Linked DNA regions of Homo sapiens: region 1 is linked to region 2. A link means that fine-mapping ties the variant in region 2 to the expression of a gene that starts in the linked region. Tissue or cell type: blood mononuclear cells. Region 2 holds a variant in brackets; the other region holds the start of a gene. All regions are shown on one strand. Distances are between the middles of the regions. Region 1 holds the start of PLEC (plectin). Region 2 has its middle 16 kb from the start of MIR661.

What was found.
Region 1: it holds the start of PLEC, and the variant in region 2 is fine-mapped to the expression of PLEC in blood mononuclear cells (TOPMed, PIP above 0.99).

What each region holds. Positions count from the first base shown.
Region 1 is chr8:143,937,254-143,942,612 of GRCh38, forward strand. It overlaps PLEC (plectin), which reads right to left and starts at 2,344. Exons shown (of 32, transcript NM_201384.3): 1 at 2,097-2,344; 2 at 1,378-1,439; 3 at 898-987. The coding sequence starts at 2,208. RefSeq lists silencers at 1,961-2,060, 2,341-2,570, 4,818-4,907, 5,128-5,359 and enhancers at 2,081-2,320, 2,731-2,790, 2,968-3,262.
Region 2 is chr8:143,958,614-143,963,972 of GRCh38, forward strand. It overlaps a transcript of PLEC not described here. Among named protein-coding and RNA genes, the nearest start is that of MIR661, 16 kb to the left of the region's middle. The variant A/G (reference allele first, on the strand shown) is at 2,561.

The DNA of each region.
Region 1 (5,359 bases), 21 kb before region 2:
CACAGTCAGCACCCACAGTGCAGCTGCAGCTCCCGGGCCCCACCCTCAGCATGCCCCAAAGCGCCGCAGCAACCGAGCCAAGGGTCTTCCCCAGGGGGCAGCAGCCCCTCATCCCAGGTTCACCCTCCCCCGCAGGGAAAGGGAGGCCACCGGCCCAGGGGCCAGGCCAGGCCCATCAGGGCTCGGGAAGTCCAGCGACCCAGGCTGAGGGAAGGAAGGAAGGGGTGGGAGGAGACAATAGCCAGGAAGCCTCGTGTGGAGGGCAGTGGCACTAAAGGGGGGGTCCTCCTGCCTGGCGGTGGCAGCCACAGCAGCCACCGGTGGGTCCCAGGCCAGCTCTGGGCAGCACGGTGGACGGGCAGCTTGACACCCAACCACCTACCCGCCCAAGAGCCAGGCAGGGGTTGGCCGACGGGCCACCAGCCCCCAGAAAGCCGGGCTCCACGGTCTTGGGGAGCTCCCGTGCCGCTGCAGCCGGCAGGCACAGCCACTCACCAGGCGTGAGCTCCTGCTTACGTCCCGCTCCCTCGGCTGCCCGGCCAGAGCAGGGCAAAGGGTAAAGGGCAGAGGTCAAGGTTCAGAGTCCAAGCAGCAGAGAAACCAAAGCAAAGCGGAGCATGAGGTTACTGTGTCCCGACGCGGAGGGCGGCAAGGCCCAGAGCAGCCGAGGTCCGAGGGTTGCGGCCACTCCCAGGCCAGGCCCTCGGCTGTGATGCCCAGCAGCCTGGGCGGGAGGTGCTGCCAGGGACGAGGCCAGCCTGCCCCCAGGGAGAAGGCAGGAGGGGTTGAGCTGGATTCCAAGTAGAGTGGGCGGCCGGAGAGGCCCCAAGGAGGGAAGGCAGGCAGAGGTCTCCAGGTGGGGCAGGCGGGGCCCGGAGGGGGCAGGGGCACACGTACCAGGCTGTCCCCCGAGAGGACCTCCAGCAGGGAGATGAGGTTGTGGCCATCGCGGAGGTCTTCATACAGGTCACTGATGTGCCTCTGGGCCTGTGGGGACAGCAGCGGCTGAGGTGGCCAGTCCCCCAGAGCCACCAATAGGCCCTGAGTGGCTGATCTACAGAGTGGGTGCTGGTCCCAGAGGGAAGGAGGCGGGGGCTGAGTCTCCCGGGAGCCCACGGAACACACCCTGCCCCACGGAGGCACCTACCTCTGCCCGCCAGTGCTGCAAGGAGAGACCAGGAAAGACCAGAAGGAAGAGGAGGAAGAGAGAGGCAGGAGCAGGCGTAGGGAAGAAAGAGGACAGAAAATAACAGGTTTCAGAGATGAAAGGTGAGCACACAGGCAGCATGGGGACAGCCTTGGGCGGCAGGGGCCACCCTCCCTCAGCGCCTCCCACAGCCTCAGCCCCTGTGACACGCACCAGCATGCGCCACCAACCTTGATGAGGTGCTTGTTGACCCACTTGGTGAAGGTTTTCTTCTGCACACGATCCCGCTCATCTGGGGGAGACAAGACCAGCTTACCTGGGGCCTGGGAGAAGCCCCGGGGGCCCTCAGGTGACCACCGTGCAGACACAGCAGCCTGGCTGGCCAGGTCCTGCCTGGGGAGCCCCAAAGCCTCCCTCAGATCACACACTGAGACCCAGGCGCCCTCACCCGCAGCCCAGCCACACAGCAGAGACCCAGGTGCCAGGGGCCCAGGCGCCACCAGGTGCAGCCACCCCACCCCGGACTCTTCCCCCGAGGAAATGGGAGGGTCCTGGGCGCACCCTGAGCCCAGGGCACACAAGTCCCGTCCTGCAGTCCCCCCCGGCCTCTACAGACTGAGACCCAAGCAGGGGTGTGGCAGAGCCAGGGCCCGGGCCCGCTGGGGTGTTGGAAGGGAAGCCGCGTGTGCTGCTGACAGGGCAGCGAACCTTCCCCAGAGCGCAGAGTTCCTCGCCCTTCCAGGCCCGACATCTGACGCTCGGAGGCCCCCGTCAGCCTCGCGGGCGCCTGTCGGCCCACTCCGTGTTGGGTGGGGATGGCTGGCCCCCGACCCCCATCTCCAAGACCAGCCCCCCAGCGGTGCCAAGGCTTTCCTGCCACAGGAAGTGGGCCTTCCTCCCGCAGGGGCCCGCCCTGCCTGGCGGGGGTGCCCGAGGGGAGCCCTGCTACCTTTCTTGCCCTCAGAGGCCCTGAGCACAGCCAGGTACAGGTTGTCCTCCGAGCTGGTTCTCTTTCGGCCCAGGCCCTCGGGCTGCGGCACGCGGAGCTGGTGCTGAGACATGCTGCCCCCACACCTTCGTCGCCCGGACCCTCGGCCTCAGGCACGGTGCTCTGGGCAGCCCCGTGTGGCACACAGGCAGCTGAAGGCTGGCGGCCCCACGAGACGCTCACTCGGCACAGGCTCAGCTCAGAGCCCCAGTCGGTGCGGCCACTCCCTGCCTGCTGTACTCCCCGGCGAGGCCGGCCCGCCCCCGAGGCCCCACCCTGCCCAGGCCGCCGCCAGGGAGGGGAGTGTCCCGGCGGGAAGGAGCAAGCAGCCCCCTCCCCCACAGACACGCCCTCGGCCCGCCAGAAACAGGAAACCGGGGTTTCCTCACCCACCCCGACCACTGCAGCCCCCTAGGGGGACCTGGGGACACGGGGAGCTGGCACTTCACTGCACACCAAATGGTGCCAGGACCGCAGAGGAACACAGGCCGTCCCCACAGCCACCCAGAAGGACCCCCCAACAGACTGAAGGGCTCCCCCGACGGGAGGGGCTCTGAGGCCACGCCTCTCTTTGGAGCTCCCTCCAGGCCTGGGCCAGGCCCTGCTTCAGCCTCTGCCCACCCACCCTGCCAGGGCGGACTCAAGAAGCCGCTGATACCTGGCGAGGGGAGGGGACCTGCTGCCTGTCAGCTCTTGCAGCCCCCCAATCACACCTCTTCACAGACCTGCATGAAGCGGGGAGCACACCCTGCCCCATGGTGCCTGCCCTGGCCCTGGGGCCAGTGGGGTCCCACCCCAGGCCTGGCCCCTCCCAAGCTGCCCACCTGGCACATCCTGGAGCAGTGCCCACCTGCGGAGCCCACCCTGCCCCAGGCAGACACCTCACGTCGGAGGCGCGTAGCTGAGGGCTGACTCACGGAGGCCGGGCCTCATGGGGGAATGGAGCATCGGGAAGCCCCAGGAGGGGCCTCGCCAGTGAGTCAGGGATGGGGAGGGGGCCCAAGCCTGTGACTCACAGAGGGGAAGCCACACCTGAGGCAGGACCTGGGCGACCCCAGGGGTGGGGGGTGCTGTTTGCAGCTGGGTGGGGCTCAAGGGAAGCAGTCTCATGCTGTAAAGGGCAAAGGGCAAAGGGCCTGCGCTGGCTGGGGCCTCCGGCTCCCTGGGGTCCGGGGCGGAGCTGCCTCTGGCCAGCTTCTGGGCCTGCCCAGCCCACCCGACCACCATAGGAAAGAATGCGCTGCCCCAACCACAAGAATGTTCCAGCCGCACATCAGGCAGATTCGGTCCAGCTGGGAGCTGCACTCGGCCTCAGTTCTGGGAAGAGCTCACCCCACCTCATTCCTACTGCCCCTGAGGCCGTGAGGGGGCACCAGAACCCTCACAATGGGGGGTGCCCAAACCCCTCAGAGGTGGGGAAGCCCCCACTCCACGCCAAGGGGCACAGCCAGCCCCTAGGGCTCTGCCACATCGTACACGCCGCCCAACGAAGACACCCCTTGGTCTCCATGCATGGTCTCTGAGCCTGGCATGAGATTCAGGGTGACCCTCTTGCTCTGCCTGTCCGGCCCAGCAGCCTCCAGAACCTCAGGAGTCACCAGAAGCCCCCAAATCAAAATCTGACCCCGCACTGGTCAGCACCTCCAGTCTTGTGCCCAAGGGCACCCCGGACCCCACACCTCTGCCGCCCCTCCCTGGGTCCAAAGCCTCTGGAAACACTGTCGCCTCTTCAGAAGCCCTGGGCCAGCAGCTACCCTGAGGCCAAGCCCCGCGCCTGCTGGGTATGGGCTCTGGGGGCCCGGCCGTGACCAGGTGGCTCCTGCCTGCAGGAACGGGGCTGCCACTCTGCTGAGGCACAGTGTGAGATCCCGGAACAGCCAGGGAGGTGGGCACAGGGAGTCCACGACAGCTGGAAACTGGGAGCCGGGGCCAAGGTCCAGGACCCACGTGGAGCCCACCCCAGCCAGGCCCCTGTTCCAGCCTTCTCCCTGCCACTAACAGGCCTCCAAAGATGCCGCCCTGGGCCGGGCCAGGGTCAGGAATGGGGCAGGGGCTCAGGGAAGGGAAGGGGCACGGTGGGGACTCCAGACACGGACTCGGGCAAGGCTGGGACCGGGTGAGGAGAAGGGCTGGGGCGGGGCAGGGCTGGGACCAGGTGGGCTGGGGGCTCGGTCAGGGGCCTCCACCTCCCAAGCCTGGCTCAAGCTCCCCTTCCCTACTTCCTGCCTCTGGGTGCCTCTTTGCTCTGAGCTCTTCCCTCCTCATCACCTCCCCTCCCTCCCAGCCCAGCCTGCCCCGCCCCATCCAATCCTATTCTGACCCTAAAACCAACAGACACACCCGCCCCACCCAGCCAGGCTACACCCACCCTCTACAGCTGCAGCTCAGCTGGCTCTCCCACCTGGGACGCACCCAGAACACCCCCAGCTCAGGTGCCTCTGCACACCTGCCTGACACCTGTGCTGTCCAGGGCTGCTGACCCTCGGCCGCCAGCCCAGGGTCCCTCACGACAGGCACTGCCGTGGCCCTCTGAGGAGTATCGCCCCCGTTTTACAGGTGTGGACCCTATGGCTGAGGTCCCGCAGCTAGTGGAGACGGTCCTAGGATGGAAACCCCAAGACTGGGAAGGGAATCCCACTGGCCCAGGACTGCAGCAAGTCCACAGAAGGCCTGGAGCCCCGCCTTCAGCACCTCCTCCCTCCCCCGTGTCCTGGAAACCCAGGCCAAAGCCCAGGCTGACGTGGAACAGCCGGGGGTGGGCCAGCCCCGCCCCCTCCAGCCCCGCCCCCTCCAGCCCCTTCTCTAGAGACAAACAAATGGGGGTAGGGGAACATCACCCCGCCTTCCTCCCCAGGTGTTTCCGGAGCTCGGGGGCAAGGCTGCACCGGGCCAAGGCGCCACCCCCATCCCAGCCCAGGCGGCGGTTCCCAGCAGAGACCCAGCCCCACTAGGTGAGAGCGATGGTGGCCCCTTCTGTGCCACCGGCCACGCCACTGCACCCACCTACGCAGCACAGCTGCTGGTAGAGGTAGCCCCTGCGGGCCGGCTCGCAGCCCCCGTCCAGCCAGCACGGCCGCTCCAGCAAGACCTCCCTCGGCGAGGCAAAGGCGCCCCCCGCCCCCGACATGCCGGCCACGGCCGGAGCCCTGGTTCGGCCCACGGACAGTGCGGGGAGCTGGACCGCGGCGGCGCCTCTGCTTCCAGCCCACGCTGCGAGGCTGCCG
Region 2 (5,359 bases):
GCAGCCAGTGCTCTCCGAGCACAAGCAGGTCCCACCACAGCCCTGCCGCTGCCCTCTGGAGGCCCTCCTCACGCAGGCACCTGCTCTGCTGCAGCAGGGTGGACCTCGCCAGGCCTCTGTGGAGAGGCTTCTCACCTGATCCATGGTGGCTCCCCCTTCCCTCCCTCTCAGCCCTCCAACACCGAGACACCTGTGGGCCCCTGGGGCGGCTGCCTCACCCAGCACCAGACACGAAGGTGTCACCACAGGAAACATGGAGCAAGAGAAGAAATGAATTCCTGGAGTTCAGGGATAATGCACTTTCCCAGAACTCTGTTAATATCGTTGACTTCACTAGCAGATTAAAGGAGAAAACCGGTATATTGATCTAGAAAATCTCGACAGCTCATTTGATAAAAACCAGTATTTATAACAAGGAATGAGCTTACATCGTTAACATGCAAATAAATGACCCTTGTAGCACAGCGGGGCACCCTCCCAGTGTGAGGCGAGGCTGCTGAGGGGAGGGCGTGTGAGGGTGAATGCGGACGGTGCAGGCGCAGCTCTCGGTCCAGCGCCAGGACATGGGACAGCATTTACCCAAGTCAGCACTGCTCCTCTTGGCACCTGAAACAACTCAACTCACCATTTACTGGAGCTCAGAGAAAGTTCATTGAGAGGCTGGCTTCAAACGCAGTTAAAAGACCCGAGAGATTTCTTTAGGCCAGTAATAACAAGTTAGGAAAATACAGCAGGAAAAACTCTTCATCAGCACAAAACGTGCTGGAATAAGATAACTGACGATCGGTCAGAGCTGATGCAGGGAACGCCCCGGCTCCAGGATGGCTCCAGGACCAGGCTCGGGGTCCGGGATGCAGAGGCCCAGGTGGCAGATGCCGCGCTAACCTGACGCGGCCGCAGTTCTGCTCACCCTCCCGCTGGCTCTGCCAGGAGACTCCTTACACAAGTTCCCGTCAGACAGCGAGGCCATGTGACTTGTCTGAAGCTCCAACACCGGGTGCTGGGCAGGTGGGAGGAGTCGGCCCACTTGGGCACTGCTGGAGGGACGACGACTGCAGTACCTAGCCAGCAACTTAGAAATTGTTTAAAAATTGTGTCTGAAACCTGGTGTGGTGGCTCACGCCTGTAATCCCAGCACTGTGGGAGGCCAAGGCGGGCAGATCACGAGGTCAGGAGATTGAGACCATCCTGGCTAACACAGTGAAACCCCATCTCTACTAAAAATACAAAATATTAGCCGGGTGTGGTGGCGGGCGCCTGTAGTCCCAGCTACTCAGGAGGCTGAGGCAGGAGAAGTGGAGGTTGCATTGAGCTGAGATCATGCCACTACACTCCAGCTTGGGCGACAGAGTGAGACTCCGTCTCAAAAAAAATAAAAAAGAACTGGCCAGGCACGCGGTGGCTCACGCCTGTAATCCCAGCACTTTGGGAGGCCGAGGCAGGCAGATCACCTGAAGTTGGGAGTTCGAGACCAGCCTGACCAACATGGAGAAACCCTGTCTCTACTAAAAATACAAAATTAGCTGGGCATGGTGGTGCATGCCTGTAATCCCAGCTACTTGTGAGGCTGAAGCAGAAGAATCGCTTGAACTCGGAGGGCGGAGGTTGCAGTGAGCCGAGATCATGCCATTGTACTCCAGCCTGGGCAACAAGAGCGAAACTCCGTCTCAAATAATAATAATAATAATAATAAAATAAACAATAAAATAAAATAAAAACTTAGGCCAAGCCCAGTGGCTCATGCCTGTAATTCAGCACTTTGGGAGGTCAAGGCGGGCGGATCACCTGAGGTCAGAAGTTCGAGACCAGCCTGGCCAACAAGGTGAAACCCCGTCTCTACTAAAAATACAAAAATTAGCCGGGTGTGGTGGCGGGTGCCTGTAATCCCAGCTACTCAGGAGGCTGAGGCAGGAGAATCCCTCTAACCCGGGAGGCGGAGGTTGCAGTGAGCTGAGACTGCATCTCTGCACTCCAGCCTGGGTGATAAAGCAAGACTCTGTCTCAAGAAAAAAAAAAAGAACTTATAACAGTTTACATTCTTCCCTTCACTAAACTTTAAAAATCAAAATCGTGTTGGAATAGAAAATATTCACGTGACTCAAACACTGAGAGTAGACAGAGAAGTCTTGCTCCCCTCCCTTCTCCCTGTCTCCCCCCACCCACACACACAGTGTGAAAATCACTGTTAGTGGCTTCCTGTTTGTTTCTCCAGAATTTCTTTACAGAAAATCAAGCAAATACCATGTGATTCTTGGTTTTCTTCCTTTTAACACAAACGGTGAAATCTTCCGGGCACCATTCTGCCCCTGCTTTCCCACCCACCCCACAGCTGGAGGCCTCCCGCTCTGCACGGGGACCGTGACCCACGTCTGGCCATGCAGAGCGGCACGTGTGGGCCCAGCCTCTGAGCGCACTCAGGCCAGTGACCATCGTCTGCTCGGACACACACTGCGCGTTTGTGGCTCTGACAGACGCTTTCTCTGGCCTGGTTCCCACAGCTTCAGCAACAGAACCTAGAAATCCAGATTTTTGATTTTTGCCAATACGATAGGTAAAAAAC[A/G]GTATCTTGATGTAAATTAAAGCTTAAATTTTGAAAACCACTTGACCCAGAAATTCCTTTTTTTTTTTTTGAGACAGAGTCTTGCCCTGTCGCCCAGGCTGGAGTGCAATGGCGCGATCTCAGCTCACTGCAACCTCCGCCTCCCAGGTTCAAGTGATTCTCCTGCCTCAGCCTCCTGCGTAGCGGGGATTACAGGCGTGCACCACCACACCCTGCTAATTTTTGTATTTTTAGTAGAGACAGCGTTTCACCATGTTGGTTAGGCTGGTCTCGTACTCCTGACCTCGTGATCTGCCCAACTCGGCCCCCCAAAGTGTTGGGATTACAGGCGTGAGCCACCGCACCTGGCCAGAAATTCCCTTTTTAACAACAGTCATAGAGATGCACAATGACCCAGCTACAACACTGTTCACTGCAGTCATTTCTAATACAAAAATCCAAAATTAAACTCCGTGTCCTAGGAGAAAGGATTGATTGGTTAAATATGATATGGTTTCCATACAGGGGAATGCTGTATTGTAAATTAATGTCACAGAGAGATGCCCAAGCTGTATCACTAAGTAAAAGAAGTTACTTATGTCTAAAATACTTCATAACATTAAATCATGAAATTACAGATAAATTAACACACACTAAAGAACACTGTGCATGCTTTTTTATTTTTTTATTCTTTTTGAGACAGGGTCTTGCTCTTGTAGCCCAGGTTCACTGCAGTGTTGACATTCTGGGCTCAAGAGATCCTCCCACCTCAGGCTCCCAAAGTGCTGGGATTACAGGCATGTGCCACCTGTAATCACGTGCCCAGCCCACTGTGCACGCTTTTTAAAACAATGACTATGGAACAAAAATGTGTAAGTTCTACATTAACCAACTACTGCAGGATGGCTGGGTAGGTCCAATGGTGGCCACAAAAAAATCTATGTCCATGTCCCTGGAGCTCATAAATGTGGCCTTATTTGTAAACAGGGTCTCTGCAGATATAATTAAATAAAGGATCTTGAGATGAGATCATCTTGGATTACCTGGATGGGCCCTAGATCCAAAAGCAAGTGTCCTTAGACGAGGAGAGACACAGAGGCAGGGATTGGCATGATGCAGCCACAAGCCAAGGGGCAGTGGAGTTGGAAGAGGCAGGCGGCTATTCCTAGGCTCTTCCCGGGTGCCTTCGGAGAAAGCGTGGACCTGCCGACACCGGATTTTTAACTTCTGGCCTCCGGAACAATCAAAAGATAAATTTCTATTGTTTTAGGGCGCCCTGCCTGTGGCTCTTCCCTGTGGGAATCAAAGGAAATCAATACAGACAGCGAGCAGGAGCAGGGTGCCTCTGTGACGAATATCTGAAAATGTGGATGTGGCTTTGCAATTGGGTAATAAACAGAAGCTGGGACATCTTGAGGCACACAGTAGAAAAAGCCTAGCCTGTCTGACCAGACGGTTGGTAGAAATATGGGTATTAAAGGTGCTTGTGGTGAAGCCTTAGAAGGCAACGAGGAAAGTGGAGGAAAGGTGCTTCTCACATTGAAGCGAAACTTCGCCGAACTGTGTTCACTGTCGGGTGCTCAACAGAACTTGTAAGCAATGAACTTGGATATTTAGCTGAAAAGATTTCCAAGCAAAGTGTGGAAGGTGTGGCTTGGCTGCTTCTTGCTGCTTATGGTAAAGTACAGGAAGAAAGAGATAAATTGAGGAAGGAACTATTAAGCAAAAAGGAAACAGCATGGGTGATTTGGGATATCTGCAGCCTATTTAGATTGCAAAAGATGCTCATGTTGGGAGGTTCACTGTTAGGAAAGTGTGTTCTGCAGAGAAAGCCATCTCTGCAGAGATGAGGTATGTGACTCATGGGTCCATTCACTCATCTCAACAGAAGCCAGGAATAGAGACAAGATTATCCAGGGAGGATCCGAGTGAACCCTTCTCTCTAATGGCCTGGCTCCCTGTGACATACAGGGGAGACCCAGAAGGTTTATGAGAATGTTTTACCAGCAGAAACACTGCCTGCTTGGATTGATGGGAACAGAGACAGGATGAAATGAAGGAAGGTATTGGGCTTCTGAGAGTCTACAGGCAAGAAACAGGATGACAGACCCAGGCAGCTGCAAACATGTGCTACCCTTTGAGAAAAAGGAAGAATGACTCCAAGGTCAGGGCCTTAGGCCTAGAGGCAGAGGCTGGCAGAGGTGCAGGTGCAGAGGGTGGGGCACTGAGCCACAGAAGAGCATTCACGGGCCTTGAAACCCCACGGAATTTGCCCTGCTGGATTTCAGACTTGCTTGGGACTGGCAACCCCTTTATTCCTTTATATTTCTCCCTTTGGGAATGGTGATGTCTAGTCTATGCCTAGCCCAACATTGCAGTTTGGAGGCATAAAACTTGCTTTCTAGTTTTACAAGTAAAAAGATGGAGAAAAATTTTGCCCCCATCTGGATCCTACCCAGAGCCTCACCAACACCTGATTTAGACACAACTTCGATGATCAGATTTGGGACTTCTGAGCTGATTAAATGTTGTTCTTGTTTTTTTCAAGATGGGGTCTCATTCTGTCACCTGGGTTCAGCCTCCAGGGTTAAGCAATCCTCCTACCTCCACCTCCTGAGCAGCTGGGACTACAGCCATGTGCCACCACACCTGGCTAATTTTTTTTTTTTTTTTTTTTTGAGATGGAGTCTTGCTCTGTCACCCAGGCTGGAGTGCATTGGTGCAGTCTCGGCCCACTGAAACCTCTGCCTCTCGGGTTCAAGCAAGTCTCGTGCCTCATACACCTGAGTAGCTGGGATTATTGGTGTGTACTACCATGAC